Homo sapiens: one gene and its partners. The protein of the gene in region 2 purifies or fractionates together with the protein of the main gene of each other region. This does not show direct contact. Each region holds a gene or a part of one and is shown on either strand. Other genes may lie near its edges.

Evidence for each region.
Region 1: the proteins of LRRC61 (region 2) and TEX264 purify together in Homo sapiens (affinity purification with mass spectrometry, with the first as the bait; one large-scale study listed by BioGRID). This does not show direct contact.
Region 3: the proteins of LRRC61 (region 2) and CIP2A purify together in Homo sapiens (affinity purification with mass spectrometry; one large-scale study listed by BioGRID and IntAct). This does not show direct contact.
Region 4: the proteins of LRRC61 (region 2) and NEDD1 purify together in Homo sapiens (affinity purification with mass spectrometry; one large-scale study listed by BioGRID and IntAct). This does not show direct contact.
Region 5: the proteins of LRRC61 (region 2) and CUX1 purify together in Homo sapiens (affinity purification with mass spectrometry, with the first as the bait; one large-scale study listed by BioGRID). This does not show direct contact.

What each region holds. Positions count from the first base shown.
Region 1 is NC_000003.12:51,696,802-51,703,330, reverse strand, and holds part of TEX264 (testis-expressed protein 264), read right to left. Parts: intron 3,926-6,529; coding exon 3,757-3,925; intron 1-3,756. UniProt on the Homo sapiens protein: Major reticulophagy (also called ER-phagy) receptor that acts independently of other candidate reticulophagy receptors to remodel subdomains of the endoplasmic reticulum into autophagosomes upon nutrient stress, which then fuse with lysosomes for endoplasmic reticulum turnover.
Region 2 is NC_000007.14:150,334,542-150,340,221, reverse strand, and holds the end of LRRC61 (leucine-rich repeat-containing protein 61), read right to left. Parts: intron 3,505-5,680; 5' UTR 3,361-3,504; coding exon 2,581-3,360; 3' UTR 2,066-2,580; downstream 1-2,065. Other genes in the region: RARRES2 (retinoic acid receptor responder protein 2 precursor), read left to right, coding at 18-122, 1,141-1,236, 1,481-1,597.
Region 3 is NC_000003.12:108,560,164-108,566,692, forward strand, and holds part of CIP2A (protein CIP2A), read right to left. Parts: intron 6,476-6,529; coding exon 6,334-6,475; intron 5,292-6,333; coding exon 5,192-5,291; intron 3,082-5,191; coding exon 2,963-3,081; intron 679-2,962; coding exon 486-678; intron 1-485.
Region 4 is NC_000012.12:96,912,703-96,919,231, reverse strand, and holds part of NEDD1 (protein NEDD1), read right to left. Parts: intron 6,510-6,529; coding exon 6,415-6,509; intron 1,612-6,414; coding exon 1,495-1,611; intron 1-1,494. UniProt on the Homo sapiens protein: Required for mitosis progression. Promotes the nucleation of microtubules from the spindle.
Region 5 is NC_000007.14:102,189,722-102,196,250, reverse strand, and holds part of CUX1 (Homeobox protein cut-like 1), read right to left. Parts: intron 6,439-6,529; coding exon 6,380-6,438; intron 2,410-6,379; coding exon 2,361-2,409; intron 2,176-2,360; exon of another isoform or gene 2,046-2,175; intron 745-2,045; coding exon 648-744; intron 1-647. UniProt on the Homo sapiens protein: May be involved in intra-Golgi retrograde transport.

The DNA of each region.
Region 1 (6,529 bases), on a different chromosome or scaffold from region 2:
TCCCCCACCCCCACTTCAAGCTTGGAAAGAGATGTGTCCAGGGCCAGCTACAGAACATCACCCACAGGGCACGAGGACTGCAGAATGCAGCAGGAGGCCCCTCTGCAGCCCTCCCCCGTGCAGGGCTCCCAGGAGCAGCATCCAGGGAGTCAGCAGGCCCCTGCCTCTGGTACACACCAAGTCCCAGTTGAGGAGGGAGCTGAAGTACGAGGAGGATGGAGAAGGCCTGAGAAATACTCAACCAGCTGCAAGGAGGAGGGTGCTGGGATGAAACATGTTAAGGGTTTTCTCTCCCTATGCCTGGGTCGACCCTGAGAAACCCTTACCCACCCCACCCCCAATGACTGGTGCTTCCTGAGCCACAAGATAGCAAAAGGGGATGATGAGAGCACTCTGCTGGTGGTTGGGGTGCCCCAAACCAGTGCTGAGCCAGGTTGATGGCCCAAACTCCTTCTAACCTGCTCCTTCCACCCCCAATACATCCTCCAAGCAAGCAGCCCCTTCATCTGCCCTGTCCAGGAGCAACCCCTGGGTTCATCTCCCTGGATCAGAGGCACTGAATGCAGGCTGGGGTGGCAAGGAGGAACACATGGCTCAGGCTCGCTGTGTGCAGGAATCCAGACTGGGAGAAAGTGGATCTGCTACCCTTCCTGTATGATGGGGAGAGGGTCAGCTGTCAAACATCACAGAAGGTGAGGGGTTAGCCAGCTTCCCCAGCCACTGTCTCCATGGTGTTGGAGCCAAGCCAGGTGCAGCTGGGGTCTGCTTGGCGCCTGGACTCAGCCTGGGGCTTTCCTTGAGCCTCAAATGGGGCCTAGGTTGGGGGTGGGAGAATTAGGAGAGGGGGGAATTTGGGGTCTCTCCCTACCCCCACCACCCACTCAGCCCCCAGAATATGCCCTCTGGGCGCTACTGGCAGAGGTGAGGTGAGCCCTAGAAGCCCAGGCTGCTGGCCCAGGGCCCTCCTCTTGCTGAGGCCCCAGGTGTGGCTCCCAGGACAGAAGCCTGTGAATGAGGTGGTCAGGGAGCTGGGGGAGCTTTAAGTTTTGGGTAGTTTCTTCTGACCAGGGGACAGGATGCCAGGCCCTCACTGCTCCTTAAATAATGATCAGTGCCCCAGGGACCGCAGGCCTGAAAAGAGCAAAGGAGGGAGACAGTTTCTCCCTGGCCCTATTAAACTGTATGTTCTGTCTGCCCACCCACCCAATGGCTCTCTTGGGACCCCAGGTATAGGAATGTGCCTGCTTCCCAGCATGCTACCTCCTACCACCCAGCTCCTAGGCTAGGAATGTTCAGAGGAAGGAGCCTAGGGGTGCCTCCTTCAGGCCAGGACAGCCTGCTGAAATGAAGACAGCCCCTGGAGACATATATACACTTCAAGCAAAGGAATTCAGCTGGAGGCCAGGCACGGTGGCTCACGCCTGTAATCCCAGCACTTTGGGAAGCTGAGGCAGGTGGATCACATGAGGTCAGGAGTTCCAGACCAGCCTGGCCAACATGGCAAAACCCCATCTCTACTAAAAATACAAAAATTAGCCGGGCATGGTGGCAGGCACCTGTAATCCCAGCTACTCAGGAAGCTGAGGCAGGAGAATCGCTTGAACCCACGAGGTGGAGGTTGCAGTGAGCCAAGATCATGCCATTTCACTCCAGCCTGGGCAAAAAAGGAAAACTGTCTTTAAAAACAAACAAACAAAAAAAAGGAATCCAGCTGGGCATGGTGGCTCATCCCTAGAATCCCAACACTTTGGGAGGCTGAGGCAGGATCACTTGAGCTAACAAGTTCAAGGCCAGCCTGGGCAATATGGCGAAACACCATCTCTATAAAAAATACAAAAACTAGCCAAGCATGGTGGTACACGCCTCTTGTCACAGCTACTCAGGAGGCTGAGGTGGGAGGACAGCTTAAGCCTGGGAGGGAAAGGTTACAGTGAGCCGAGATCTTGCCACTGCACCACTCCAGCCTGGGCGATAGAGCCAGACCTTGCCGCAGAAGAAAAAAAAAAAAGGAATGCAATACGGGGAAGTAGCATCCCTATACCCCCACCAAGATCTACACAGGAGGAGGTCCCAGAGTCCCATGCCTGCATCCCTGGGCAGAAGATACCAGGCAAGGCAGGGCCCTACCTAAATCCCCACGACTACTGGGGCAGGGGACTTGAAGCCCACCCCCTTCACCCAAATCCCTCCCTCTCGCTCTGCCCACAGCCAGTGCAAGACGATCAAATATTCATCGCCTCTCTGAAGCTAAATAATACATCAATGTAATAACAGGCACAAGGCAGCTAATCACCCCCTTTCACCTCCCGGCCTAAGCTAGGGCCACAGCAGGGAGGCGGGCAGGGACAGGCCAAGCCTTGGGCAGTCAGACATCCTGCATGCACCCACCACCAACTGCTGTGTCAGTGGCATGCACCTGGTGGGCAAACACCGAGTCCCGCTGGGGTGTCAGGACAGGCCCTGTGAGAGGTGGGCAGACCCCTTGGCCCCAACACCAGGGAGTGGGTGGGCGGGCTGGAGGGGAGGAAAACAGGCTGAGGAGCTGGGGAATGTGGGAGCTGCCACTACAGCCAGCTGTAGTGGGTGCCAAGCAGTCCTTCAATGACCCTGACAGGCAGTGTTTGGGAGGGAAGGAAGCTGGGTGGGTGGGTCAAGGAGGGGGAGGCAGGCAGCAGAGGGAGGTCACAGTAAAGTGAAGGCACTCTGTCTTCCTGCCCTGGAGGCTGCCTGGGCCTGCTGACCTTGTGCCATGTCCTGTGCCCACAGTAGGGGCACTGAAGAGTGTCTGCCGGGCACTACCAGGCAGAAGGGAGCTGTACCCCATGGAGGTAATTAAGTGGCAGATGAAGTTAACTGTGTTGGACACAGGCCCCTAGGGAGTAGAGACTGCTCCCAATACCCTCCTACCCAGCCCTAGCTGACACGTCTCCCTAGGGTGACCTTGGCTGTTGAAGACTGGATGGGCAGAGCATCTGCTAAAGAAGGAGGAGAGGAGGGACAGTTCCTCTCCCCACAGCCCTGTACCACTCCTAGAAGTCACAAACTCCACCAGGTTGGCCAAGGATAAGGCCCCCTGGGACCATCTGGGATGTAACCCAGCAGACCCCCTTGTGCCTGAGACAGCCCGGGGTCACAGATCATTGCAGAGGGGTGGGCAGGCAAGCAGCCTTCCAGCCTGGACCTGGGGCCTTGAGGCTGCCAGCAGGAGTGTGGGCTGGCCCTGGAGAAAGGCACAGGTGACTGATCTCCTGGCTCCCCTCTGCATGCTCCCTGGTTGTTCCCTGGCAGGGAGAAAGCAGCTGGCTCTGGGTGGGGCCCGTACTGAGGGACAAGAGAACACTTTGCTCCCCTCCTTACCTTCCAGATCTATGCCAATCTTACTTCCTGCTGAGCCCCACCCAAGGGACTCCTTTCCTGAGCAGCCTCAGCCCCCTCCCATGAACATCGAGCTGTCTGTGATCTTTGTTTCCAAGGGTACTCCTGCTGCATCTGGAGGGAATCCAGGCAGGGTCTTTGTATCTGTGTTGCCAGGAGGTAATGTGTGTGAATCCACATCTATGTAGATCCATGTGTCTGGGAACAGGCAACTCCACATGTGGGTCCTCAGGTAGGTGGGTCTCCTTCCTCCCTCTGCCAAGCATAGCCTGACACCCACAGTGCCAACCCAGAGAGGGAGGAGCCTCCTCAACCAAGCCCCTGGAGTCCAGAAGAGAGGAGCTCCAGGAGGGCCCCATCCTCATACCCCACCTTCTGTACCTGTGCCATCCACCTGGGTGTCAATGGCCTCCACAAGCCCCCGCCATTTCCACTCTGTCTCCTTCATCTCAGGCACATAGAAGTCTCCCTGCCGTGCCAGTGGGCACATGAAATGGATCTGGTCTTCCTGGTAGATCTCCAGCCGAGGATAGGCACACAGCTTCCGCTCCTAGTCAGAGAGTGGCAAAAGGTAGAATGAGCCCTACAGGGCCCCTGACTCACTTGTCCCTGGGTGACCCCCAGAACTGTCTATTACCTATTCTGTCCCAGGGGCTGGCTCTGCCTCTCAACCTCTTCCAAGTTCCAAAGCCCTGCTGAGGGAGGCACACATAGATCACCCTAACAGCAGGGCCCCATAGTCCAGAGTGCAATAATAGTCTGAAGACCCAGGACGACACCCTAGGGCAGGTGGTAAAAGAACCCAGGAGCCTGGCACTGCTCTCCTATGTGTACATCTGAGACCAAAAAGCTGTTCCAGAAGGCACTGGTCTCACAGAGCCATGAAGCTTGGCACCCCTGGACCACCCCAGGATAGGGACCCCATGTGCCTAAGCCAAGGTCTCACCTACCAGACTTTCCATCCCAGGACCCCCTGGCCCTGACCTCCTCTCCACCCTGGACAACGCTGACTGACCCACAGATATCAGAAGACCAGCACCCCCAGTCCTTAGGCCTCCAGCCCCTGCTCTTGCAGACATGCTACTATAGACCCTGAACAAGGATCAAGGCCAGCTAAACACCACTTCCACTCCCATTCATTCCCCTGCTAGTTTAGAGCTATGTCAACCTCTGAGACTATCAGGTATGGTTCCCATACCTCCTCACATGTAAACTCAGGTTTTAGCTGATGGGGAAGAGGGAGACCCTGGACTGGAAGGTCAGGTAGGACAAGTAGATCTAGCACAGGACATTACCCAGTGGGCTGATGTACCACCTTTTGGGCCCCAAGTTCCAAAAGGCACTCCACCTCCCTCTGCCTAGACACAGAATCCAGTGCTCCCCATCCCCCAATGAGTATGGAGGGGCACAGACATGCCAGAGCCACCCTGAGGCAGGCAGGGACAGCCAGAACAGGGGTCAAGTTGCCTCTTACTCAGAGCCTGCCCCGCCACCTTTCCTGCGAAGGAGCACAAATACCCACTATGATGACTGCAAGGCCCCTGCCCTGTCACTGCTCACCCGCCAATCTTCACAACACGACTATTTATAGCATTCGCCCCGCTCTCACCATGAGCTCTGAAATGAGCCTTCCACTTAGCAGTAATGAGAGACTTATTGCCTGGCAAGGAGAAGCCACTCCAAGACTCCACTTGTCCACCTGCCTGGCCAACCCTAGGGTTGAGGAACCTCCTTCAACTAAAGCAAGCTAGCAAAGAAGGGTTAAAAGCAAGCCCACGGATGATAAAGGGAAAGAGGAGTGAGCCTGAAAGGTTTACCTAGCTAGGACCCTCAGCAGCCAGCTGAAGGGAGGGTGCATCTAGGAGGCCACGCGGGAGGTGGATGGCCTGTCCCAGGTCTGGCTGTGGCTCAGCCTCTGACTCCATGGGTGATCCAGGCAAAGCCTTCCATCCTAAGTCTCCATGTGCTCAACAGCAAAGTAGAACACCCTAGCCCTGATGCTTCCAAGGTCGGTGAAGGAAAGTCATTATTTTTTAATAGTTGGAGTCAAATCTTCTTTGCCAACCTGGGTGCCCTCGGGGCTTCCTCCATCTCAAGAGTCCATGCCCCTGACACGTCCCATTTCTAAACACACAGATGGCTGTCTTTGCTTCTCTACCCACTCACATACCCACTCCAGCCTTGGTCTCCAGGAGGAGGCTAAACAAGATCACAGTGTCAGGAAGCAGGAGCTGTCAGGCTCTGGGGCCCCTCCAATGCCAGCACTTAGAGGCAGGCATCTGCCAAACCTGAACCCAACTCAGCAAACTGGTCCAGGTCACTGAGGCCAGGGGCAGGGAGGCCCCTGAAGAAGGTCCAGGTCCTTCCCCAGTAGCTAGATGAAAGAAAAGGATCCCTGAATCTAGTCAGGGCATGGCCTTCACCAACATCCTCACACTCTGGACAAAGGACCCAAAGGGTAGTAGCTGAGTGGCCATCACAAGAGCAGCAGACATTTGGCTTTTGGGGGAAGATCCCAGAGGACAGAGCCTGTGTCCACCCAGAGATTCCAGGGACAATGGGGACCCTAGCCCAACCCCTCTCAACACTCAAGCCACCTCCCTAGCTTCCCTTCTGGAGGAACTTGGCCATAACAAGATAATAAGAGGGAGTACTGCTCTTTCCACCCTCTCCCCTAGGCTGGGCAGCACCAGGCTGCCACCCTGTGCCACCTGTTCTGCCAGCCCCCTCGTTGGCAGGCGGGAGGCAGCTCTGCGGCTGTTCTGCGCATCTGCTTCCTCCGGAGAGCCCGGCTCTGAAGTTGCCTGGCTGTGGACAGCCCCGTTGCCATGGAAACTGCATCCTCCATCCTTGCCGTCGCCTTCATCTCAAAGCCATCAGGGAGAACAGAGGATCAAGGGAGACAGAGGATGGAGAGAAAACTGTGGCCCTGCGACACAGCCCTTCCTTCTCTGCCCAGCTCTCCCTCCTCACAGCATCTCACACAGGGAGCACCAGGTCCCAGAGCCTGCTCCCAGACCCCTGGAGGGGCAGCCTCAGGCCCAAAACTAGCCTGGTCCTACCTGCTGTTACCTGGGGGCCCTGGTCCTCCCTACTGGAGGGAGGCATGGAGCTAATTAAAATGCCATTGACTGTTCAGCCCCAAATCATTATA
Region 2 (5,680 bases):
TGCCTGTCTGTCCGCAGCCCTTCCCAGCTGGAATATTTGTGAGGCTGGAATTTAAGCTGCAGCAGACAAGCTGCCGGAAGAGGGACTGGAAGAAACCCGAGTGCAAAGTCAGGCCCAATGGGGTGAGTGAAGGGGTGTGAGAGCAATGGGCGCATGCTGGGTGTGAGTGCATGGACTTGGGGTTTGGGGTGTGGGGCACATGCCTGGGTGTGCATGCATGAATTGGGAGGTCCATTAAGAAGCCCTGAGGTTAGAGACCCCACTGCGAAGAGCCTCCTTAGAGGTGGAGTGGCTCAGCCTGAGCCCAAGGTTGTGAGAGTGGCTGGTGGGAGCTGGGGCCTGGCAGACAGGAAGATGGTTTGGTTACCCCTGGACTTATCTTCATCAGAGCAGGGCTCACCTCGGTCTGAGTTCCTCTCTCAAGCATCAGGGCCTGGGTGGAAGGAGCCGGCTGTGTGGGTGTGTCTGGTGCCCCCCTAGCCTAGCAGGACTCCAGTCATCAGTCACGGTGGGGGCAAACCTTCCACCGTGGGGGTGATGCCTGGGCTGGGAGTGCAGTGACTGTGTTCTAGTTCCCGCTCTGTGAGCACGGCCTGGGCTCTGTATTACAGGTTCTGCAAAGGCCCCAGTTCCCTCTGTCGGCTCAAGGAGGGCACTGGACTATAGCAATGATTCATCAACCTCAAAATCAAATCTTACAAGAAAATAAATAGAATAGGTGACAGCTGAGCCACTCTGGAGGCGTTGGGTGGGAAGAACCCATCGGAGGAGGATTCTTGCCTTCACACGAGCACAAGCAGACACATCCATGCATACATCACACACCCATCCACCCACACTCCTGCATACAAACCACATACATGCGTGTTTATGCATGTGCCACACAACCCATCTGGGAAGGACTCCTGCCTGCACACACATGAAAGTTCCATAGTTTGAAAACTGCATGGGTCTGACTTCTGACATTCTAGGGTGGCTGTGCCTGAAACCTGCTGGCCTGCATGACCTCTTGCTCCTGGGCTCGAGGGCCTAGTTGGGGATCTGGTCCCATGATGGGCAGCCCTGGCTCCCACCCTCATGATGCCCAGGCCTCCCTCACCCTTTTCCTCTGCTCACCCCATGCTCCCCGCTCCCCCACAGAGGAAACGGAAATGCCTGGCCTGCATCAAACTGGGCTCTGAGGACAAAGTTCTGGGCCGGTTGGTCCACTGCCCCATAGAGACCCAAGTTCTGCGGGTAAGAAGGGGCAAGGGTGCACAGGTGGTGACAGGGCTGGGAAGATGGATGGAAGCTGAGCCTATGGGCTGGTCTCGAGGCTAAAGCTTGGCCAAGCAGGAGGGAGGGCAGTGGGGGCTAGAAAGCGCTGTGCCTGTTTGGACATTCTCCAAGGGATGTGGAGGGGATGTGGAGGATGCTGGCAGCCCTCCACTGGCACTGCCCACCCCTCCTACACTGCCTGAACAGTTTTGGGCACTGGCAGGAGGCTGAGGAGCACCAGGAGACCCAGTGCCTCAGGGTGCAGCGGGCTGGTGAGGACCCCCACAGCTTCTACTTCCCTGGACAGTTCGCCTTCTCCAAGGCCCTGCCCCGCAGCTAAGCCAGCACTGGTAGGCACCAGGGGGCTGAGAGCACCGTCTGGATGAGGCCAGCCCTGGGAATGCTGAGGGGCTGGGCTGGGCTTTGGGAGCCTGGGAGGGGACAGGTCAGAAGCCTGGGAGGAAAGCTGGGACTGGGGCTGAAGCAACCTCCCTCACCCCCAAACCTGTTTCCCCTTTTGTCTAGAGATGCGTGGTGCCTCCAGGACCGCTGCGGGTGGTAACCAGTGGAAGACCCCAGCCCCCAGGGAGAGGAACCCGTTCTATCCCCAGCCATGATAATAAAGCTGCTCTCCCAGCTGCCTCTCAGCTCCTTGTGTTGCACGACTTCCTCCTTAGCGTAGCTCAGAGGCGGCCAGAGAGGGCAGGGGGACAGGACCCTTCCTCTGGGACCCCTTCCTGTGGGCAGGGTGAGCAGAGCCTCCTGTGCTCCAGAGCCAGAGGTGCCCCCATGAAATGCCAGGCAGGGATGCAAATGAAAACAGAAGCATTTAATAGATGTGTGGACAAGAACGGGCAGAGAAGGTGCTGCGGGGAGGGGGTAAGTGCAGGAGCAGTCTGGAGAGGCACATTTGCAAGGCAGGGGAGTCCCACTTCCAGGAGTGCTCTGGGCCACTCAGCCTGCCTACTGTCTCCCAACAGCTGAGACGGGAGGCTGGCCCATCCCTACCTTTCTCGCCTGTAGCCTCAGGAGGAAGTAATTCCTTCCACTAAGTTGCAGGCTGGAGCAGCCCAGAGTGGCAGCAGCTGCGGACACAGGCTCACGGATGTGGGAGCCCTTACACCTGCTCACAGCCCTTCAGTCTGTCCTTGCAGCATGTGGAGGGATGGTGGGGAGGGGCTGCTCTCAGGATAGGGATAAAGCAATAGCCCAGTGTGCAGGGCCAGTGACCAGTGTGAAGCAACTAAGACGAGTGTGGGGGCAGAGAGGGGAACTGGGGGCAGCGAGGCCACCTGCCAGGCTGTCCTGGGCCATAGGCCACGTTCAGAAGACGAAGGAAGAGGTGGGGCCCGCAGAGCTGAGTACCTGCTCCGCCTGGGCCAGGCTGTCGCTGGCCTGGCGGTCCAGGTCCCAGCACTCCTGCAGTGTGTCCTGGAACTGCCGGCAGGCCTCCTCCAGGATGGAGCTGCTCCGGCTGGGCCAGGACTCCCAGTAGCCTGGCTCCACCCAGGGCTGGGCCTCGGTGGCTCTGGGGCCTGGACTGGAGCTGGGACGCAAGGAGCTGTCCAGGTCTCGGCACAGCTGGTAGAACTCACTACCACGCCCAATCACACGCTCACCGTCGATGACTTTCAGGCCAGGCAGCAGCTCCCGGACTGCAGCCCAGTAGGAGGGGTTGGCACAGAGCGGGTTGCTGAGCCGGGCCAAAGGGTCTCGGAGCCGCAGGTACTCCAGGCACGGTAGCCCAGCCAGACACTGCAGCTGGCCCGGGGTGGCCAGTAGGTTGCCTGCGGCATTGAGACTCTGCAAGTTCTCACAGGTGGCCAGTGGCTCCAGGCCCGTCAGCCGATTGTTGGAGACATTGAGCACAGCTAGCTGGCGCAAGGAGGCCAGCGGGCCCAGGTGGGTGAGCGCGTTGCCTGATAGGTCCAGCCACTCCAGGCCCAGGCACTCTCCCAGGCAGCCCAGGTCAGCCAGTCCCAAGCCACGCAGCTTCAGTAGCAGGATGGACTCCAGGGAGAACTCGCCTGTGCGTGACTTCAGCAGCTGGGGTGTGATCTGCAGTCCGCCAGCCTCTCCCGGCTTCTCCGCTGGAGGGTCCATGAGATGGAAGTCGGTTGGGATGGCCTGGGCCCTGGCAGGACTGTCACAGGGTTCCACTGGGGGTCAGCTGGTGCTCGCCCTGGCTCTACCCAGGCCAGTGCCAGGAGGCCTGGTTCCGATGCCCTGCTCGAAGCCAGCCAGTCCCTGAGGAGAGACAGTCAGTCAGCAGGCAGCACTTTCTGTGTCTTACGCAGCAGGTGACGGCAGGGAGTCTGACCCTGCTTTTACCATGAAAACCAACAATCTCAGCCAGGCAAGACCTGAAGACCAAGCTGGGACACAGGCCACAAAAGCCATCTGAGTGACAGGGATGGGGTGCAGGCCCAACCCAAGGGGAGCAGCCCAGACTGGCCCTGGCTGGTTAGGGCCATGCTGGATGGATTCAGGCCCAATATTACCAGTTCTTCCTGTCAAATCCAAACTAGGGGCAAAACATTATTTTACTTTTTCCGTAACCACTCACGATCCATCCCTATTAGTTTTGGGGTGTTTTTTAAACCGTTATTTTTGAATAGGCAATAGGTAACCACCATCACCAGTTTCTTTTGTTTTCTTTCTGGGATAATCAATGTATATGCAATGCAAACGAGAGCACATGTGCCTTGTTTGATTCACTCAGTATTACTGCAATTCTTTCTAACAGCAATGAATTCAAACTTGTTTCCAGATTATATGGGTCAGCTGGTACCTCTGGTTGGAGCTGTAGAGCATAAGAAGTTGGCCTTTAGTCCTGAAGGAGAAAACTGAGGTCAAGGTAGTGAAGGGACAGGGAAGGCTGGGGTAAGTGGCCTGGCTAGGTCGCACACCCTTGCTCTCACTTCACTGCCCGCCAAAGCTAGCTCTTTTGCTCTGGACTCAGCTGGACAGATCAATGGAACAGCACTGATATACGTGCCAGACAGCACGGTGCCAGCTGCAAAGACAACATAAATTTCCCAAAGGGCAGGCTGTCTTGGAGGGAGGGAAGGGTGGCTCCAGAAAGCCGGGAGGGGCACATCAAATTGCCAGGGGCTGCAGGACCAGGTGAGTCCAGGTGCCAGCGCATGACTGTGGCACAAAGCAGGGGTGGCCTGGTGGAGGGACCTCAAGATTTAAGCAGTGAGGAAAATAACAGACCTCTTCCAAGCGCAGCTTTCCCAACCTGGCAGACTTTGGCCAGGCCCAGACCCAGGAGTCTCACCCAGGCCGGCGGGGTGATGCCTGCCCTGCAGATCTGATGCAGGGTGTCGGTGACTGAGTTTACATATCAACACTTTTCATTTTCCCCTCTCCAAGGAAACCAGGCCCAGAGCCTGATCCACTTAGCTCCTCCCACACCATCAACAAAGATATTTACTATGTTCCCAACCAGGGAGCTGGCGAGGATGTAAACGGTCTTGCCATCCTTATGTCCTCTACACCCCATCTGGAAAGGGGAGTCCTTGTGCTTATGGCCCCCATTTCCTTATCTAGCTCCCTTCTAGTCTGCAACATTCCAGCTCATTCTCTTTTATTTATACCTCAAATATTTATATATACTTTCCAAAAGAGACTGGAAGCATCTGCCAAGAAGTGTGGATTCCCTCAGTGGGAATGGAATCTTTTGGGGTTTGTAAACAGGGAGTGATGCAATCAACTTTGCATTTGATTAAAGCTGCTCTGGCCCCTAACGTGGGGGGTGCAGGAGGAGCACCAGGCACTAGAAACCTGTCTGCTGTGAAAACAAAAGATACAGGCCCTAAGGAGGGCAGGAAGCAATGGGGAGGAGGAAAAAGAGCCTAGGACGACTGGGGAATCTTGCTGGGTGACTGTATGCCAGGGGCTCCTTTTTTTCTTTTTTTTTTTTTTTTTTGAGACAGAGTTTCACTCTTGTTGCCCTGGCTGGAGTGCAATGGCACAATGGCGCGATCTCGGCTCACCGCAACCTCCGCCTCCTGGGTTCAAGCGATTCTCCTGCCTCAGCCTCCCAAGTAGCTGGGATTACAGGCACCCGCCACCACCATGCCTGGCTAATTTTTGTATTTTTAGTAGAGACGGGGTTTCATCATGTTGGCCAGGCTGGTCTCAAACTCCTGACCTCAGGTGATGCCCCCTGCCTCGGCCTCCCAAAGTGTTGGGATTACAGGCGTGAGCCACCACACCCGGCCCGGGGCTCCCTTCTCAGACATGTGAAATGCAGGTGGGACAGGTTGGAGACAAGAAGACATCCAGCTACACAGCACTCAGCTTGAGTGAGTGTGGCGTGGGGCTCAGGAGGCAGCTGGAGCTCCAGGCTGGAGGGATCCAGGCACCATCAGCAGGGAGATGGCAGCTGGCATCAAGGAGGGCATGCAGTGCATGG
Region 3 (6,529 bases), on a different chromosome or scaffold from region 2:
TAAGTCACAAATATTTCTTTTTTTTTTTTGAGATGGGTCTCACTGTCACCCAGGTTGGAGTGAAGTGGTATGATCTTGGCTCACTGCAACCTCTGCCTCCTGGGTTCAAGTGATTCTCCTGCCTCAGCCTTCAGAGTAGCTGAGACAACAGGCATGAGCCAACACGTCCAGCTAATTTTTTGTATTTTTAATAGAGACGGGGTTTCGCCATATTGCCCAAGCTGGTCTTGAACTCCTCAGCTCTGGCAATCTACCCTCCTTGGCCTCCCAAAATGCTGGGATTACAGGCGTAAGCCACCGCACCCGGCAAAATGTTGAAATTTTGACTGATTTTTCTTATTTCCAAATTTTCCAGAATATTGTTATTTCTTATATTAAGGTTTCAATAGTGAAATCTGTACCTGACAGTGTTTAGATACACGTTATAATTGGGACTGACATATAGCTAATATGTACCAGGTTATAATTGCTATTTTTTCACTCACCACCATTCCAGACTGAAGTTTCTCTATTAATTCTTCAATATTCAATCCAGGAACACCATCTTTCAAATGAGGAGTTAAACACTTTATTGATGTTGGAAAACTGTGATTTGATGATTGCCAGGGCATTTTTCTGGGTATATGTTCTGTTTCCTGTTGTCTATAGGCATTGTTTGCTGCTATACTTTCTCCAAGTCTGAATGGGAGTCAAAGAAAGGAAAAAAAAATTATACGAAAATAGAAGAAAAGGCAGACTTAGTGCAGAATTAGGGAATTTTTAAGAATGGGTCCTTTTTTTGAATAGAAGTCTTCAAATAATCTTGGAGACCATGATGAAATGAAGTCTTGGGAAATATTCTGAATTTTCCAGAGCACCCACTTTTCTGTTTCTAACCTTTTATAATGACAGCTTCACCTCTGGTTTGGAGGCATTGTAAGACTAGTTTATGAGTGTGGATTATCTGTAATAAGTACAAAGTTATTGGTACTGGTCAGAATAATGTTCTTATCATGGGTGATATCACCTGGCCTTTACGTCCTTAGTCCTTTTCCTTTCTCACTCAGTACATACTTTTCACCAACCTGACTTCCATTCTAACCCTTTAAAATCCTCTCTTTCTCCTACCTCAGGCCTTCATATGAGCTGTTCCTTTATCTGGAACACGCTTTCTACCACAAAACAAAATATTTTTTTCACTTATCTCTTAACTAAAGTGCAAACTGCAAGATGGCAGGCACTCAGCCTAATTTATTATAGGCTGGGCATGGTGGCTCACACCTGTAACCGCAGCACTTTGGGAGGATCACTTGAGTCCAAGAGTTCGAGACAAGCCTGGGCAACCTGGTGAGACCCCTCTATAAAAAAATAAATTAATTAAGCAGTTGTGGTGGCACAAGCCTGTGGTCCCCGCTACTCAGGGGGTTGAGTTGGGAATATCACTTGAGCCCCAGAGGTCGAAGCTGCAGTGAGTCATGATCACACCACTGCACCCCAGTCTGGGTGATAGAGTGAGACCCTGTCTCGAAAACAAACAAGTAAATACACACACACAAAAACCCTACCTACCAATGCATCCATAATATACATTCAGTTTATTAAACGCCCAAGATAATGTCAAATAAGGGCATTAAATAGTAAGCATAAAATGGACATCTGAGATAATGCCCAAAGAGAAAATTATTTACAACACAAATAAGACAGGGAATGCCAAGACACAGTCAAAATGGTGGGAAGGCCTCACACACAGAGGCAGAGGATAAGACTTCCATGTTCAGTGAGGCTGCAGATTCCCCTTTGAAGCTCTTAAGGTTTTGTTTCATGTCAGATTACCAGTTTATGCAAGCAGGCCATCACAAAATAGAGCAGCTTTACAGACCACTTTTAACTTGTAACTTGAAAAGCTTCCTGTGTATTTTTGTTGTTGCTGTTAAAAAAATATTTATTATAAAATTAAGGGAATTTTGGTTATATGTTCTCTAGGTCTTACATCCCATACTTTAACTCTTAAGGTATGATGACCTAAATTGCTAATTCTGAAAAGTGGAATCGCTAAATCAGTGAATAGCATATAGCATGGACCAGCACTTTTTCTTATAGGTCAAGATAGTAAGTATTTTAGACTCAAGGACCTATCTGGTCTCTGTCACAATTACTCAATTCTGCTTTTATAGAGTGAAAGCAACATAGACAGAGTATAAAAATGAGTGGGTGTGGCCATATTCCAATAAAACTATTTACAAAAACAGATGCCTGTCCACTGGCCAGTTTGCTGATCCCGGTATACAGGGAATATCTTACCTGTTTATCAACTACTTCAAATTATTCAAACCATTTTTACAAATTCATACATATAAATGACTTAAAAAAATTTTAAACCAGACTCCTAATAGACATTTAGTTCAGAGAGCCCTGAAATCTGAATTTTTTTTCAAACATAATTGCAAATATTCTTATTGCTTGAAAGTAACGAGTATAGTAGAAAATTTTGCCTGGTTGTCATTTTTCCACTTTCTGATAAAAGTTCAGATTTTTTTCTTTAGGAACTCTCCTATTCTCCTATCCCAACTAACTTTTAGTCCACATCGTTCTCATGGATAACCCAGGCCTGGTCAATGACTAATGCTTAGACCTTTTCCTTAAACAGTCAGGAAGGAAAAGCTCTTTCTATGGAGGAACTAAACTGGGAGGATGTAGGCTTAAGAGTGTCCAGAAGTTATCATTAAAAAGAAGTGGCTAGAGACATAGAGGGATAGTACCTGAAGAACATTTAACTGCCTGGATCTAGCTTTTCCCTGAGTGAGTATACATCTGAACTTTTCATTTATAAGAATCAAACATTTTTAGAAATCACTTGAAAAATTACTATTACAATGAAGTCTTCAATTCACTAATTTGCTTGTGTATCTATACTGAGGACTAAAGAGACATAGCAGGGTATTCCAACACCACAAGAGATACACTGCAAATGATTACAACTCACACTAAAGCAGGAAAATCTGGCAGTGGAGCAGCCTCCAATAATATTCTCAGTCCAGACTGTACTTGTTCTCTATTATCTGACGTTAAAGCAAAAGCCAAAGGAGTAATCAAACGTGGGTCCTAAATAAATCAGAAACCAAAAAAGAAGCAGCAGAAAGAATAAACAATGTCAGCTCTTTTAGATAGGAGGTGAGTAAATATATGTAAATCTTAATTCTAGGCAAATTCTAAAATGTTTCTAATGTTTGAATATATTATAGTCTATATAGTTTGAATATATTATACCTTGTTATAGCTGTTTACACTGCAATGCAATCAATATGAACAGTTTAAAAAAATCTGGCAAAGGTTTTGAATGCTTTCAAATGTGCCTATAAAAATTATGCCTTATATATTTTCGTGGATTAAAAAACCCACAACTGACTGATGTGTAGAATTAATGTTTTTTTCCAAGCTATCATTTAAAAGAAAAAAATGGCCAATCACTTCCAAATTAAGGCTATAAAATAAAAAGTAAAATTCAAATTAAATTAGAACATTTAAATTTAAAGATCGAAAAAATACAGTTACTTCAATCATTTATGTCAGTAAATATTTTACATTAGTATTGTAAGCCCCAAGTCATCAACATATATCTAAAATGTCTGGGACCAGAAGTGTTTCAAATTTCTGATTTTTTTCAGATTTTAGAATATTTACATGTACTTACTGGTTGGGCATCCCTAATCCAAAAACCCAAAATGCTTCAGTGAGCACTTCCTTTGAGTATCACCTTTGAGCCTCATTTTGGTACTTAAAACGTTTTGTTTTTTGGAGCATTTCAGATTTCAGATTTTCAAATTAGGGATGCTCAACCTGTATTATGAAAAACATCTTAAATAATGGACATAACATCAGTTTGACTCCTTTAAAAATACATTGAGATATTAGTGAAGAAAATATTAAAATATAAATCCCTTATAATTAAAATATTGAGTACCTTGTAGGTACTTGAGTATAATCCAGTGTCACAGAACTGTGATAAGAGCAGAGCTTTATCTCCAAAACCCTCAATGGTAAGCCTCATTATTTCCAGTTTGTAGTCGAGGAAATTGAAGTCGAGAGAGGTGAAATAACTTACTCAAGCCTGTACTAAGAACCAGTAGAGTCAACATTTGAACTCAGTCCCTTAATCTCAAAACATGCCAGTGGTCCCTGCCTAAGGTTTCAGTTTTGGCTTCTACACTGTCTATACAGTCACTAGAGATGTCTCTGTTAAGCTACTGCAGTAATTTAATTCACTCATTTTTGTTAAACATCTGTTGTAAAGGTAGGTGTTGTAGATATTATTACACAAAGTTTTTAAGAGGCTAATATTTTGGAGTAGTCTCCTCCACTATGCTTTAGCAGACCAGATCAAACCAGAAAGGAGTCACTTGGATGAGTGCCATGTAATCAAACTGCACTTTGAAATGGGCCAGTTTTCCAAAAAACCAGGAGATTTCAGTCAACCTGAGTTAGTATAATAAGGAAGCCCCCTTTATTATAATTCTATAGGAAAAGTAACTTTGAAATGACCAATCTGCTTTTAGTTCCCTATTTGTGCTTTCTTCAGCCCTTTTCTGGTCTATAAAGTCAACCTTCTCTGCTTAGCCCAGGGGAATGATTCATTCTATTTTATAGAATGAGGCTGCCAAATTCTAGAATCATAAATAAAAGCCAGTTAGAACTTTGAACTAAATTTGTTGTACTTTGCCTTTTGATAACAGCTAGAGATCATATTCAGCTACTATTATCATTGAAATTTGTGAGTTAGCTATTTTCTGCACAGCCCTTCTAATTATCACAATCCTTTTCTTCCAGCTGTCTCCCTATCCCCTTAATACCCTACATCAACCCTAACCAAAAACAAAAACCCTAAAACAAATATCACTCTTCCTCCAATGCCAACAGAAACAAATGAAGAAATATACAAATACAACACAAGAAAGGAAAAGGCTGAGGAAGCAGCACTATTGTGAACATTCTCTACATTAGTGTCATGAGCACTTATGTTCAATTCCTGTGAAAGTATATAAAATAACTGTGCAGTGAGACTATTATAACTGCTTAAGACAACAACTTTAAACTTTCTTCTCATTGCCAATTCTAAGAGAATTATCTTCTAAAGATTAAGAATATTAAAACAGAAACTTATATTAGGACCATTTATGTATGAATAAACTTCAATGTTTGAAGAGTTTAAACTCACCTGAAGTATTTTGTAGAAGCTTACTTCCATACCAGGAACCAATGGTTTAAGTTTGTTAATCAAATCAAGAGTTTTCAAAATTACATCAGCAGCAAGTTTGCTTTAAAGATAAATCACATTTAAATTAGATAACTGAAAAATTTCTTAGAGCTTGTTTCTGTCCAAAATTCTAAAGAAAATGAAAAAAACCAACACTTGTGTTTTTTAAATTCAAGATGATAAAGTCCTGTTTCTATTGAGAAGTAAAAATCTCAATCAACATTCTTATAACTCAAGATCCAAAGAGAACAAACTGGCATTAATAGCCTTAGTTTAGACAGTGTTTCTTTTACTACCAACCTGCTTCAACTTTCTGTTTCAAGTAAGTAGTAGTTTCGAAACACAGTTCATTTAATTCTTAGCTTTGTCACTAGAATATCAACAACAGACGGTAACCTTAGGCAATATAGAATATCTAATACGTAATGAATGAATTACACTAGGTCATGTTCTGAGTTTTGTACCTGAAAGTAGTATACAAATATAAAAACAGATAATTCTTACTCTAAAGGTCCACAATTACTGACAATTGTGACATCTGTGGAAACAGAAACAAATCATAGTGTCTACCACTCAGCAGGTCCTCAGTAAAGATTAGATGGACTTAATTCATGAGGAGGGAAGGGGTATAAAGTAATATCTTATTACCATCAGTGAAAATCCACCTTTAACCATAATTCCTGACCTGCCAAGGAAGGAGAGTTGTCTGTTATTAAAAAGCCTTTAGCAGTGACTGATTTCCTTGTAATAAAACTACTCTTCTGTTTTTTCATGCTTTTCATTTAAAAAAGTAAAATTGATTACTGAGGCAATGTCAAAAAGGAGCTCCAGAAATGTTCAGAACCCTTAGATAATTATAGTAAGTTAAAACAAGACAAAACAAACCTAAACAATAAAAAACAACAAATGTTAATACCTTTCTTCAAAAAGCACACAATCTACAAATTGAATGAATTTACAAAAAATTCATTATGAAAATATGTTTGTTAATCTGTTATATCTTAAGTTATAACCAAAGGATGGTCCTCCAAAAGGATGAGAATCACCACATCTTTCGATTTTTTACTGCCTTGCCATTTTGTCATTAGAGTTTATATACTCACCATAATTCAGAATCTGCAACCTTTGTTCCAAATCCCAGGTCAATCTTGCCATATGTAAATTGTTGTTCTATAAGAGTGGTACACTTGACAGTTGTCAAGATTTTTGCAATATGCATTTTTAGTGTATCATCTCCACAGAGAGGTTAAGTTTTGTTAAGATATACAACAAAAAAATTCTCACTTTATGTGTAAAAGA
Region 4 (6,529 bases), on a different chromosome or scaffold from region 2:
TCTCAAATCCAATTAGGAATACACTTTGAGGAAGTAAAACTTTCAGGTTTTAAACAAACTGAGTTCACAAGGACTATGTTTTCCAACATCAAATTAGAGATGTCCAGCAGGAGAGAAAAGTGACCAAAATTGGGAGAAGAGTTTTTAACAGGAAGATGCCATATCTCAATAATACAAACAAACTAAGCCCTGTATCTAATAATTATTTATGTAACAGCAAGAATAATAGCTATGATATTCCACTTATATTACAACTTTTTCAAGTGGTCCTTCAAGTATTTTCAGAGATTTCTTTACCTATTATTCCTTTCCCAAAACCAAGGAACACTTGCTATCTTGAGGAAAAAATGTTTGATGAAAAGAAAAAAGGAAGAGCAGACGTTCTGGGTATCGTTCCCATTTGGGAAATTAAGAACATGGGGTCCAATGTAATTTCTATGACTTTATAAAGAGGCAAGTGTCTTCCTAATTTCAACTGTGGAGAATAAGTCATTCAGCAAACATTTACTAAGAACCTACTAAGTGCCAGAAATTGTGTTAATCACCAGGGAGACGACTGTAGAGATCCAAAGGTAAAAGATTAGATTTCCCACTATCACAAGTAGTCAAAATATTCATTAACAGAATGAATGAGGGAGCTAAACATTACGAATTTCACACCGAAAAGACAGAAAACCATCCAGAGTAATTGAGAAAGCTGAAAATGGAAAAAATCATCAAATTTTGCCATGCAGGGATGGGGTAAGTGAAGCTTACATGGGAGATGGATTAAAGAAAGTTCTTCCTCTGTGTATGTGTGTAGATATAAATATGTTTATATTTTTCATATTAAAACTTTTTTAAGACAAAAATTAATTTTAAGATCAACTTCTAAATATTAAAAAGACAATATAATGAAAAGTAGAATTCCAAAAAAAAGACCATAGACTTTCTTGTGCTGAATATTTTTATTTTCTGAAACTACAAAAAGCTAATTATTAAAGAAACATTAATTGTAAATAGTAAATTAGTTTACAAAATATTACCAAGTTAAAAATACAAACACACACACACAAAAAAAAAACACAAACAAGAGCAGCCAAATATACTACATAACTAAAAAGCTGACCCAACTCTGATTACTGTATTGAATACTATCATCACAAAACAACTCTCATTTTTTCCACCTGGCCCTAAGGAAAGATCCCTGATGACCACACACCATAGTTTAGGAAAAAATGAGTGAAGTGGTTCATTCAAATAAGAGTAGAACTAAATAAAAAACAAGAAAAAAGTTGTAAATGTTGATCATATGCATTAATGCTACACATGTAAGAAAAAAGACATAAAAATAAGTTTTTGGCTAAATAGCACCTTTATTTTCCCTAACAAATCTTAGTTCAATTCTGAAGCCTCTTATTTTTATCATAAAAGCTCAAAAATAAAAGCTTGGTAAGTACTCTAAATGCATTAAGATATCCATTTTTTCATGAAGATTTTTTTTAAATTGCTTACCTTAAGAGATCGATGAACTCTTTTTGATTTTAAATCCCAAATATTAACAGTGTTATTTAGGCCTCCGCTTACCAAATACATAGATGTAGAATTTAAATTGACACATGTCTGCTTTTGCTATTTAAAAAAAAAAAAAAAAGTTACCTTAATTTAACAGAGCCCAGAGCTGACTTTCAGGTCTCATCCAACACTTAGTAAGCATATGATAAATATTGGTTAAATTAAATACTATAAACATGCTAATCTTGTACTAAAGAGCCACTCTCTCATCGTCTTTCTTCCACATGGATCCAACAGCTTTTAAGGGGGTCAAAAATGCTTCAAGGAAATCAAATAGATTTGCATTCACTTCTGTGGACCGGTGACGACACAGGAAGCTTAGAAAACACTGGCAGTCCTGGTCTCCCATCAGGGCTTGTTTGCCCATCCTATCTCCTCTTGATAAAGCCTGCTCTTGTATTTCCACAGAATATCCTACATTAAAATCAATCCCCAGCTCAAAAATGCTAAAAATAGAAGAGACTTTAAAAGAATTTCCAGTGTACAGCCCTCATTTTACCGATGGGATAAGTTTTTTTTTAAAGAAGTCAAGATACTTGCCCTAAGTCTTCCAGCAAATCTCCGTTAAGGAGACCAAGTCTCAGACATCAGGTCATCAAAGCCTGACTTCAACTGTTCCCCATCTCTGTAAAGACACCATCCAGTTTCTCAAGATAAAAACCCAGAATAACCCTTGATTTCTTGTTCTCCCTCCCCTCCAATCTATCAGTAAGCTCTCTAAACTCCAACCCAAGAATGAATCCCACATGGGCTCCCCTTTATCTATAGCTACTACTAACACTAACCCAAACCTTACCAAACTACGACAGCAGCTTCCTAACTGGTTTCCCTGTTTCCACTCCTGCTCTCCTATATTCCATCCTTCATAAGTAGGGTGGACTTTAAAAATGTAAATCAGATCATGTCTCCTTCCATACCCAAATGACTATAAATCATGCTGCTATAAAGACACATGCACACGTATGTTTATTGCGGCATTACTCACAATAGCAAAGACTTGGAACCAACCCAAATGTCCAACAATGATAGACTGGATTAAGAAAATGTGGCACATATACACCATGGAATACTATGCAGCCATAAAAAATGATGAGTTCATGTCCTTTGTAGGGACATGGATGAAATTGGAAACCATCATTCTCAGTAAACTATCGCAAGAACAAAAAACCAAACACCGCATATTCTCACTCATAGGTGGGAATTGAACAATGAGATCACATGGACACAGGAAGGGGAATATCACACTCTGGGGACTGTGGTGGGGAGGGGGGAGGGGGGAGGGATAGCATTGGGAGATATACCTAATGCTAGATGACGAGTTAGTGGGTGCAGCGCACCAGCATGGCACATGTATACGTATGTAACTAACCTGCACAATGTGCACATGTACCCTAAAACTTAAAGTATAATTTAAAAATAATAATAATAATAATAATAATAATAATAAATCTTCAACGGCTTCCAATCACACCAAGAATAAACTCCAAACATTTACCTGGCTTTCAAAGTCCTATTATTTGGGCCCTACCTCATCTGTTACCATTTTCTTCCTCATCCACTAATTCTCCAGCCATACTGACCTTCCATTCCTTAAATATACAACCCTATATTTGCCTCAAGGCTTCTACACAGCTATTCTCCTTGCCTAGAAAGCTAAATTCACTGAACCCTGTTTGGAAGACTTTCTGGTCAACAGATATCAACTTAAGTGCCACCACACTTCAAGGGACCTCCATTGGCTACCTAATGTAACTTGCTATCACAATATCTTATTTTAGTTATCTGCATGATAACTTACCAATATCTGGGTATTTTTTGTTTACTAGTTTACTGCCTGTCCCCCGCCAGAATGTCAGTTTCACTAGCACAAGGCCCATATCCATGCTCCATCTTTATAGAATGGCTAAAATACAGATGTTGTCAAGTTCTTCTCAGTGAGTATCTTTGAGTGTCACCAATTTGGTGGTGCCATCAGTAACTATGCTATACAGAACAGTGTTGCATTTTTTTCCTAAGTAACCTTTAGATGCACTACGAAGTCACATTAGTTGGAACTTCCACAGTGCATCCTTGGATTCTTCAAATTCAAAGGAGACATTTCATGACTTCAAGAAAAGTTAAAAGGCAAGCTATGTAGGTTTAGGCAAATCATCTCACCTTTCTGAGCCTATGCTTCTGCATTTGAGAAACGAAAGGTGAAGACTAGATCTACTGTTCTTACTTTGAGAATCCATGCTTCTCAGAAATATCCTCTGCTCAAAAGAGATTCTTTAAAGGGTGCATATGATCCCCTTCCTCTAGCCCTTCCCCCATTGCACGTTCAAATACTATAAACATGCTAATCTTGTACTAAAGAGCCACTCTCTTACTGTCTTTCTTCCACATGGATCCAACGGCTTTTAAGGGGGTCAAAAATGCTTCAAGGAAATCAAATAGATTTGTGTTCACTTCTGTGGACCCCAGGGTTCCTTCTAGCTCTAAAATTTTGACCAAGAGTATCAACTAACATATAAAAATAGCAAGATGCACACAACATCAATGTTTCAGTATAGTTGCTGTAATTCTCCTGCAGATACCATTCTAGGAATTGACTTTAGTTGAGGGAGACTAAGAAGCTTTAGAATCTGGTTGTCACTGCAAATCAGGACAGTTTGCTAAGAACTATCAAAACAGCCTTTAAATAAAATAGAAAAAGATGGTGTCCATTGAAGATCAATATATTGGGACTCCAATCATCACAACAACTACAATTACTCTTAAGGGCTCAAAATAAAAATTATATTTAGAGCTGGCTAACCCTGTTGATAGGTCTTTTTTATGATAATGTATTATTAATGCAACTAATGAACTTAAATAATTAATGGAAATTGTGTGGTTATTACAGGAATCCTGAACTGCTCAAGGTGCAAGGCAAAGGTACATTCTACTTTAAAGAGGTGAAATACAAAATCAAAGAAAATAAATATGAACTTAAAGTTCTACTCTAAAATTTTAAAATCAGTAAGATCATAATTTATTTTCTCAAGTAGAAAAGGTCTAATGCCTCAAATAATACACGAGTAAGAGGACTTGGAAGTTACAAAAAGGTTATTAGCACATTAATATGTTTCTGTAAACATTACTAGTAAAAGCTAAAAAACCAATGTTTCCAAATATTTTCATAACTAAATTAAAATAGATTGAAAATTTGAACTCAACTAATCTTACTTTTATCCAACAGCATTATGATACAATTTGTTAACTATGGGAAAGAGGGCTAAGAATCATAGCAACTAATTTGGAATATTCACAAAACTCTTAGAATTATGTCACACTTGTAAATACCATCTGTTATTTTTATACTTTAAAAAAAAAGCTCCCAAATACTGATTCACTGATCCTAAGGCATAATGCATAACAGTAGTACATATATATAGTGGTAGAGTAGAAGTTGAAATTGTTTTGATGTTGACATTAACAAGTTTTTTGAACATCTTAGGATACAAAGATCCAAAGATGGTTAAGATGTTTTGCCTGCTCTTGAAGACTTCAGTCTGCCTTTATCGACCAGAGACATTCTATGCCTTGATTCTGCTTAAGTCAGGTTAAACAGAGTGCCTCAAACTCCATTTCTACTGTTAGCACATGTTCCCTCTGTCCCAGTCTCCAACATCTGTGGGTTAGAACTGAAGTTCAGGTCAATCCCACTGGATACCTTTAGGAGAGGATTGATAAAAATCATGAGTCCTCTTTAAATTAGTTGAGCTTTTATTCAGTTGTCCTGCTGTTTTCTTTCTAATTGGGCTACTTTACCTATCCCAGTGTGTAAAATTATGACAATTCATAATAATTTAAGATCTGCTAGAAAAACTTTGAAATTAAAAAAAAAAGCTATCAACTACCATATCTTTTTATTTAAATCTTATCTTATTTAAAAAAGAAATAGCTTTCAAAGAGTGTGTGACTAGAAATGAAGAAGCCAGTATTATCCTTAATCAGAGGGATTAACTTATAAAACAAAAGGATAGGCTGGGTGTGGTGGCTCATGCCTGTAATCCCAGCACTTTGGGAGGCTGAGGCGGGCGGATCATGAGGTCAGGAGTTCAAGACCAGCCTGGCCAACATGGTGAAACCCCGTCTCTACTAAAAATACAAAAATTAGCCAGGCGTGGTGGTGGGCACCTGTAATCCCTGCCACTTGAGAGGCTGAGGCAGGAGAATCGCTTGAACTGGGGAGGCGGAGGTTGCAGTGAGCTAAGATTGCACCATTGCACTCCAGCCTGGGCAACAGAGCGAGACTCCATCTCAAAAGAAAAAAAAAAAAGGATAAGGCAACAGTACGTAGTGAGAGCTTCATTTAAACGCCCTGGGACCTAAGCTCATTTTGACAAAGCCAACCTGTTTAAGGAGAGTATGGGGGAGGCTCAGACAGGCCCCTCAGTACAGGTGGACAGAATCTGAAGCAGAGAGCTACCATCAGCTGTGAGTCTGTTCCTGATGGTCCTGAGCCCAAGATCAGTAAAGCAGTGCTGTGTCATTAGAGTTTATATGCTCAGGTCAACCTAGTAACCTATGTGGGATATCGTCCTAAAATAGCAGCAACAGAGATCCTCTCCCACTGAGGGAAAATGGAGAAATGAAGTGCCTAGTCAACAAAATTCAAGTCTTCAATTGTTCCCCTATATTCAAAACTATTTTACCTAAAAATACTTTAGTAAGTACACATATCTCATTTTTAAGTGTTACTATATTATTTTGAGCTTAAGTTAAAAATAATGCTTTTAAAAACCTTTATATTTAGTCGCAAGCACCACAATAAGCAATTGCCAGTCAAGCAAAACTAAGATTTTTAAAAGTTTAAAAAAAAAAAAAATCACTTACCCCTTCAGCAAGCTCTAAAAGTGGAACAGGTTTACATTTGCAACTTGAGACAACTATTTTGTCGCCACTGGAAGATGCTGTTACTAAAAAGTTATCTAAATGAGGAGTTATGGAG
Region 5 (6,529 bases), about 48 Mb from region 2:
GACCAATGGATTCGCTCGCACCTCTTGCTCTGAGGCGATGCACCGTACCGAGCCCCCTCGATGTGGAGGCGCGCGCCCGTTTTGAGAATGCAATACCATTAGAGCCCGAGACACCTGTACGCGTTTTACCAGCTGCCCAAACCAGAAGCACAGTCAAGTGACGCCACCATTTGGGGGATGAGCCAAGAAAGGCTAAGGATGGGGGACGCGTCCCCAGGGGAAACCTGACCAAGGAAGAAAAACCTCTACTGGACCCGGCAGGCCCGGGGCTGTCCCTGAAAACACCACCAGAGCGAGGCTGGGTTCACACTGCCCCTGGCCTCTGTGCAGCACAACCAGACACAGATCAGAAAGGCCGACGTCCTCCGAGCTGTCCCTCCCGGGGATTCCAGCCGCACTGCCCCTAACTGACCTCCGCAGAGCCTGTGCGGCTGGCCCGTCTCGACATCCAGCTTTAAGCAGGGCGGGGAAGGGAAGGGAGGAGCGGTGAGGAGGAGGGCACCCAACACGCGTTAGTCAAAGGTTCTCGTCAACCGGCGCTTCTCTGGCCATGCATCTGTCCAGACTCACGATTCACCTTCCTCGTCCTCGACCGACCCCTGGAAGCGAACCAACCACCGCACACGCGCGAAGCCCGGCCAACCTACCGCTCAGGTCGCTGTTGGAGATGCGCAGCGCGGCGTTCTCGGACTGCAGCGAGCGGTTCTTCTCCAGCAACAGCACCTCCAGGGGCTTGGCCGCATCCTAGAAGGGGCAGAGCGGGGGTCTCACTGCGGGGCCGGCCACTCACCCGCTCCCGGGGCCACCAGGCCTGGAGCCCTGCCTCCCTCCATCTGTCCGCGTTCCCACCCAGCTCTCGATCTGATTAGGAAGTGGGCTGCGGACAGCTGATTTCCCCCCAAGTCGTTTAACACACGTGGAAAACAAGTTCCCTTTAGAAAGAATGGATTCTAGTTGAAGTCATTTTCCTTCTTAGACTTCCACAGCTCCTAAAAAAATTAATTATTCTCTCATCTGTTCTCAAACTCAAGCGACCTGAGCCCGTGCCTCATTTGGCCATAAGACTGGCTGCCAAGCCACAAACGTCTGTCCGAACGTTACTGTAAAGGGAACTTTTCTTTTTTTTTTTTTTTTGCCAGCCACAAAGATGTTGGCTGTCTTCTGGGCATCAGGAGTCAGATTCCACTTAGGATGTCAATTTTATTTGATTTGATTTTTTAATTTTTTGAGATGGAGTCTCACTCTGTCGCCCAGGCTGGAGTGCAGTGGCATGATCTTGGCTCACTGTACCCTCTGGCTCCTGGGTTCAAGTGATTCTCCTTCCTCAGCCTCCCAAGTAGCTGGGATTACAGACGTGCGCCACCACGCTCAGCTAATTTTTTATATTTTTGGCAGAGATAGGGTTTCACCATATTGGCCAGGCTGGTCTCAAATGCCTGACCTCAAGTGATCCACCTACCTCAGCCTCCCAAAGTGCTGGGATTACAGGAGTGAGCCACCATGCTTGGTCTGGGATGTCAATTTTAATTGGCCACCAGATGACCCTGGGCCACAGTCATCCTTCCCTTGTACCTTCTCTACTGAGGCAGCATGTAACTAAAGTTCCTAAACCAATCCATTTTTGGCTGCTCTTTAATGCAATTAAAAAAAAAATAGTCAGTCTCAATCTGTTGTCCAGGCTGGAGTGCAGTGGTGCGATCATAGCTCACTATAGCCTTGAACTACTGGGCTCAAGCGATCTTCCTGCCTCAGCCTCCCAAGTAGCTGGGACCACGGGTATATGTCACAGTACTTGGCTATTTTTTTTTTTTTTAATAGCAACATGGTCTTGCTATATTGCCCAGGCTGGTCTCAAATTCCTGGCCTCAAAGCGATCCTCCTGTCTTGGCCTCCCAAAGTGCTGGGATTACAGGCATGAGCTACTGAGCCTGGCCTTCTTAAACACAATCTGAAATTGTTTTTTATTTATGTTCTTAGTACCTGCTGAAGTGAAATCACAATTTCACTTCAGTTACCAGTTTGGAAAACACTAGCTTTTCTCTTTTTGCCTCTTTTTGTTAAAGATAATTTGCTTTTTGGTAGTGCCCATCTCCTATCAGTCAGGGATGAAGCAATCCCTTGTTCATCCCCAGCTTGGCTTTTGATCTATGCCTGGTTCATGCCTTGGACACATGGAAAAAAAGGAGACAAAAAAAAAAAGATAATTTGCTTCAACTTGGTTAAATGTTCTTGAAGTATGACTCATCGGCTGTAAGTGAGAGGTCTCGTAGAAACAGTGGATCATGGGATATGCCGGAGGGACCAGTGGTAACCAGCAGCGGGGCTGATGCTAGTGCTGACCATTGAGGTGAGACACGTACCTGTGTCCCAGCGCCCTCGGACGGTGCAAACTCCATGGACTTCAGAATGCTGCAAGAGCACAACAGAGGGGTTATTTTATTTATTTTTTGAGACAGAGTCTCGTTCTGTCACCCAGGCTAGAGTGCAGTGGCGCGATATTGGCTCACTGCAACCTCTGCCCAGGTTCAAGCGATTCTCCTACCTCAGCCTCCCGAGTAGCTGGGATTACAGGCATGTGCCATCATGCCCAGCTAATTTTTGTATTTCTAGTAGAGACGGGGTTTCACCACGTTGGCCAGGCTAGTCTCGAACTCCTGACCTCAAGTGATCCACCCGCCTCAGCCTCCCAAAGTGTTGGTATTACAGGCATGAGCCACCAGAGTGATTATTTTCTACTTATACCTTTGACAACAGCCACATTAATAAGCATTAACATTACAATTTCCTGCTCTCCAGGAACCGAAGAACTGTCAACTTTAACAACTTCCCTGGCAGTAATAGAATCTGATAATGTCTCTAGAATAACTATTCAACTAGCAGTTGGCTGGCAAAAGTTTCTTGCCTAGCATGTAAATCATTCCATATGGAATCACACCAGGTCTGTTCAGAGTATAATTTTAAAGTTTAATACAGACATAACATTGTTGCAAGTGGAATGTATTTGTAAAGCTTAAAGGGAAGGAAAAAGTTGTAAGGAGAAGCCAGAGAGAGGGGAACCCACCAGGGCGGCCACTGCCCACACCTCACTCCTAACTGGCACCTACCTGGGGACCAGGGGACATAGGCAAAGAGCAACCTCCTAGACTTGGATGACTCAGAAGCCAGGTGGGCAGACCTTCTCTGCAGCCCCAGGTTGGGGAAGGAGTGCAATGACAAAGATGTGGCAAGAGAAGGTGACTTCTCCCTCCCTTGTTCTCAATGGCACTGAAAAGGGCCGCACCCTGATCACTACGGTCTCTGGGCTGTCTCAGTGAGTCCAGGTCCCCAGGATTATTACTGTTTCTTGAGTTCCTTTTGCTGTGGATGTCCCTTTTTTGCTGAGTTTACCAGGGAGAAGAGGGGAAGTGAGGCTATGTGGCTTTGAAGGAGCTGCAAGTGTTTCTTTGAAATACCAAGGATGGAAGAGAGAGACCCAGAGCAGGCTGGCTGGACCGTGAGATTTACGACTCGCAGGTGCAGAGTCAACCGGACCTTCGCCATGTTCCTGCAGCCACAATTTCGGCCTCTGTCCCCCTAGTGTGAGCCACCACACCTGGATAATTTATTTTTAGTAGAGACGGTTTTGGCCAAGCTGGTTTCCTGACCTCAGGTGATCTGTCGGCCTCCCAAAGTGCTGGGATTACAGATGTGAGCCACTGCGCCCAGCTGAAAGGGGTTTCTTAAGATGGAATCCTGTCCTTCGTTTCCTATTTTCTTTAGGATTATGTAATAAAAGACCACGTGGCTCTTTATCTATTCTACAGATCTTTACCAGCAGCCTGCTATCCGCTTGTTGCCGTGGGGAATCAGAACCACTCCTGGTCCGTACTCCAGGAAATTTACAGGCCATTACAGGTAATAGGCAAGACTCCAAGTGGTCCATTAAGACAGAACTTGTGAGGACCCCAGCAGGAGGGATCTTGATGGATTGGAGACCACGTCTCAGTGTCATGATGAACAAGCATTGGAGAAGGGCCCTGAAGGGACAGGGTGTCTTGTGCTGCAGTGCATGAGGATCTGAGGTCAGCATCCCCTGTTGCGTGGGGGTGAGGAAGTGGAAATGGGACGATGCTGAGAAGGGGACGCGGGCAAGAGCTCAAGAGCACAGCTGGTTCACCAGGAAGTGGAAAACTAGGAGCGCATTTGGGCAAAGAAGCCACCTGAGTGGGGCTTCCAGATGTGCACATGGTGGTGGGGCCTGTCATGTGCGGACGCAACAGAAAGAGTTAGCAGAAATGCAGTGACAAGCGGGGCTGGTGTGGCAGCCCTTCAGTGGGGGTAGGGGCAGCCTGTGGTCCGGCAGGCTGTGGATGAGAGGGAGTAGAACGGTATGTGTTGCAGGCTGGAGCCTGGAAGCCTCAGCTCCCAGGGGATGAAGTGAACGTGGGGGTTGGGGGAGAAGAGGAGGAGGAGGAGGAGCAAGAGGAAGAAGAAGAGGAAGAGGAAGAAAGAAGAAGAGGAGGAGGAAGAAAGAAGAAGAGAGGAAGAAAGAAGAAGACAACGAAGACGACAATGAAGACGACGACTAACTCCCAGGGTGAGGCTGGGCAAAGGCCTTCGCAGCAGTTTCTCTGGCTCAAAATTAAAAGGCCCAATTTCTTTTTCTTTTTGGAAGAGGGAAGAAGAGGGAAAGGAAGGAAAGAATGGGATAGGAGAGGCAGGTAGAGAAGGTTAACCAGGTAATGTTTAATAATAAGTTACATGTAATCCCGGCACTTTGGGAGGCTGAGGTGGGTGGATCACCTGAGGTCGGGAGATTGAGACCAGCCTGACCAACATGGAGAAACCCCATCTCTACCAAAAATACAAAATTAGCCCGGGGTGGTGGCTCATGCCCGTAATCCCAGCTACTTGTGAGGCTGAGGCAGGAGAATCGCTTGAACTCGGGAGGCGGAGGTTGCGGTGAGCCGAGATAGCACCATTGCACTCCAGCCTGGGCAACAAGAGCTAAACTCTGTCAAATAAATAAATAAGTAAGCAAGCAAGTAAGTAAGTTACAGAGGCTGGAACTGTTAGAGGGATGTAGGGGTCTGTCCGAGGAGGTGCCGGCAGAGGCTTTGCAGCTGGAGAGGGGATGAGACCGCTCAGGGGGAGAGCATGGTGGGGACAGGGACTACCAGGGCCAGCAGACGCCAGGGAGGCTGGGGGTCCCAGGCGAGAGAAGGCAGCTGGTCATGGAAGTGAGATGGTTCAAGAGGATGCCCGAGGAGCTTTTCTTAGCAGAATGGAATTAACAACACAAAGAAAACGTGGTGAGTGGGTGTAGGCTCATCTTAAAAGGAGAAATGGAAAATAGCAGCAAGAGAGAAAGGGGCTGATGGGACAGCAGGAGGGGCAGGAAGGAAGGGACTCAAGGTCTAGGCAGAGGGGGCAGCCTGCAGAGATGGGAGGTGGCACCCAAGACCAGAGGCGGGAGTCTGTCCCTAGCAGAGGGCTAGGGCATCTGTGGATAGTGGTTGGGGTAACAGTGACAAGGGCAGGGAGGAACCCCTGAGGAAGCCTCGAACCAGCAGAGCTCCAGCCGCGAGAAGCACGGGGGACCTGTGGGGCTGGTCACCATGCCCTAGGCAACCTTCGTTTGCAGTGCTTAATAACCTAGGAGTGAGGCGGGCATGCCAGTGGGAAGGCTTGGAATGGCTGACGATCCAGGGGAGCTGTATGAACGTAGAGGGTCTGACCACAGGCTCCAGGCTTGCAGGGGAGGTCAGTGAGCCTGGAGCATTATGGATGTGGGGGGACAGGTAAAGACCAGGACCTGGGAGCTCCAGAGTGCCAAAGCAGGCTCAGGGTGAGGAGGCAGAGGTGGGGGCTGCTGGCCGAGAAAGGAACTTTGAAGCTTGAGAACTGAGAATGCCATCATTAGCCCTGAAAAGATGATAAGCTTTCGGCTACAGCCTCACAGATGGAGAATAGAGTTTGGAAGACAGAGTTCCTGAGTCCAGGAGGCCGGGGCAGCGTGAGGCCATATGCCCACCTTCAACCCGAAAACATTTCCCTCCTGTGCTTTGTTTCTGTTTGGGGAATTTATAGTTGCAAAACAAGGTCATATTTGATCATTTCTGTAAAAGCCCTATGCCCCTGATTCCATACATTCTGGAATACCTGCAATGCACAGCTTTTAGCAAAAGTCCAAAGAATTCAGGGACAGGCCCAAGGGCAAACGCCCACAGTGGTGGGTAGCCCAGGACACCATGCAGTGGTAGAACTCTGGCTGCATTTACGGGCATCTGCTGAGCCAGAGGGCAGGGGGCCAAGGCTTCCTGCCACCAGCCTGGCATTGTTAGCAGATGGCCCTAATGCGCCCCAGCGTGTGAGGGGCCACAGGGCTCTCCGTACTTACTTCAGCTCTTTCTTCACCTCTTCATAGTCAGCCTGGCCTTTGAGTTTTTCTTCCAGTTGCTGAAAACAGAGAAGAATTTGATCAGTGGCCATGCCTGACAACAGGTCGACGGACTTCACCGACGGCATTCACTGCGGAACAGCCAGCTGT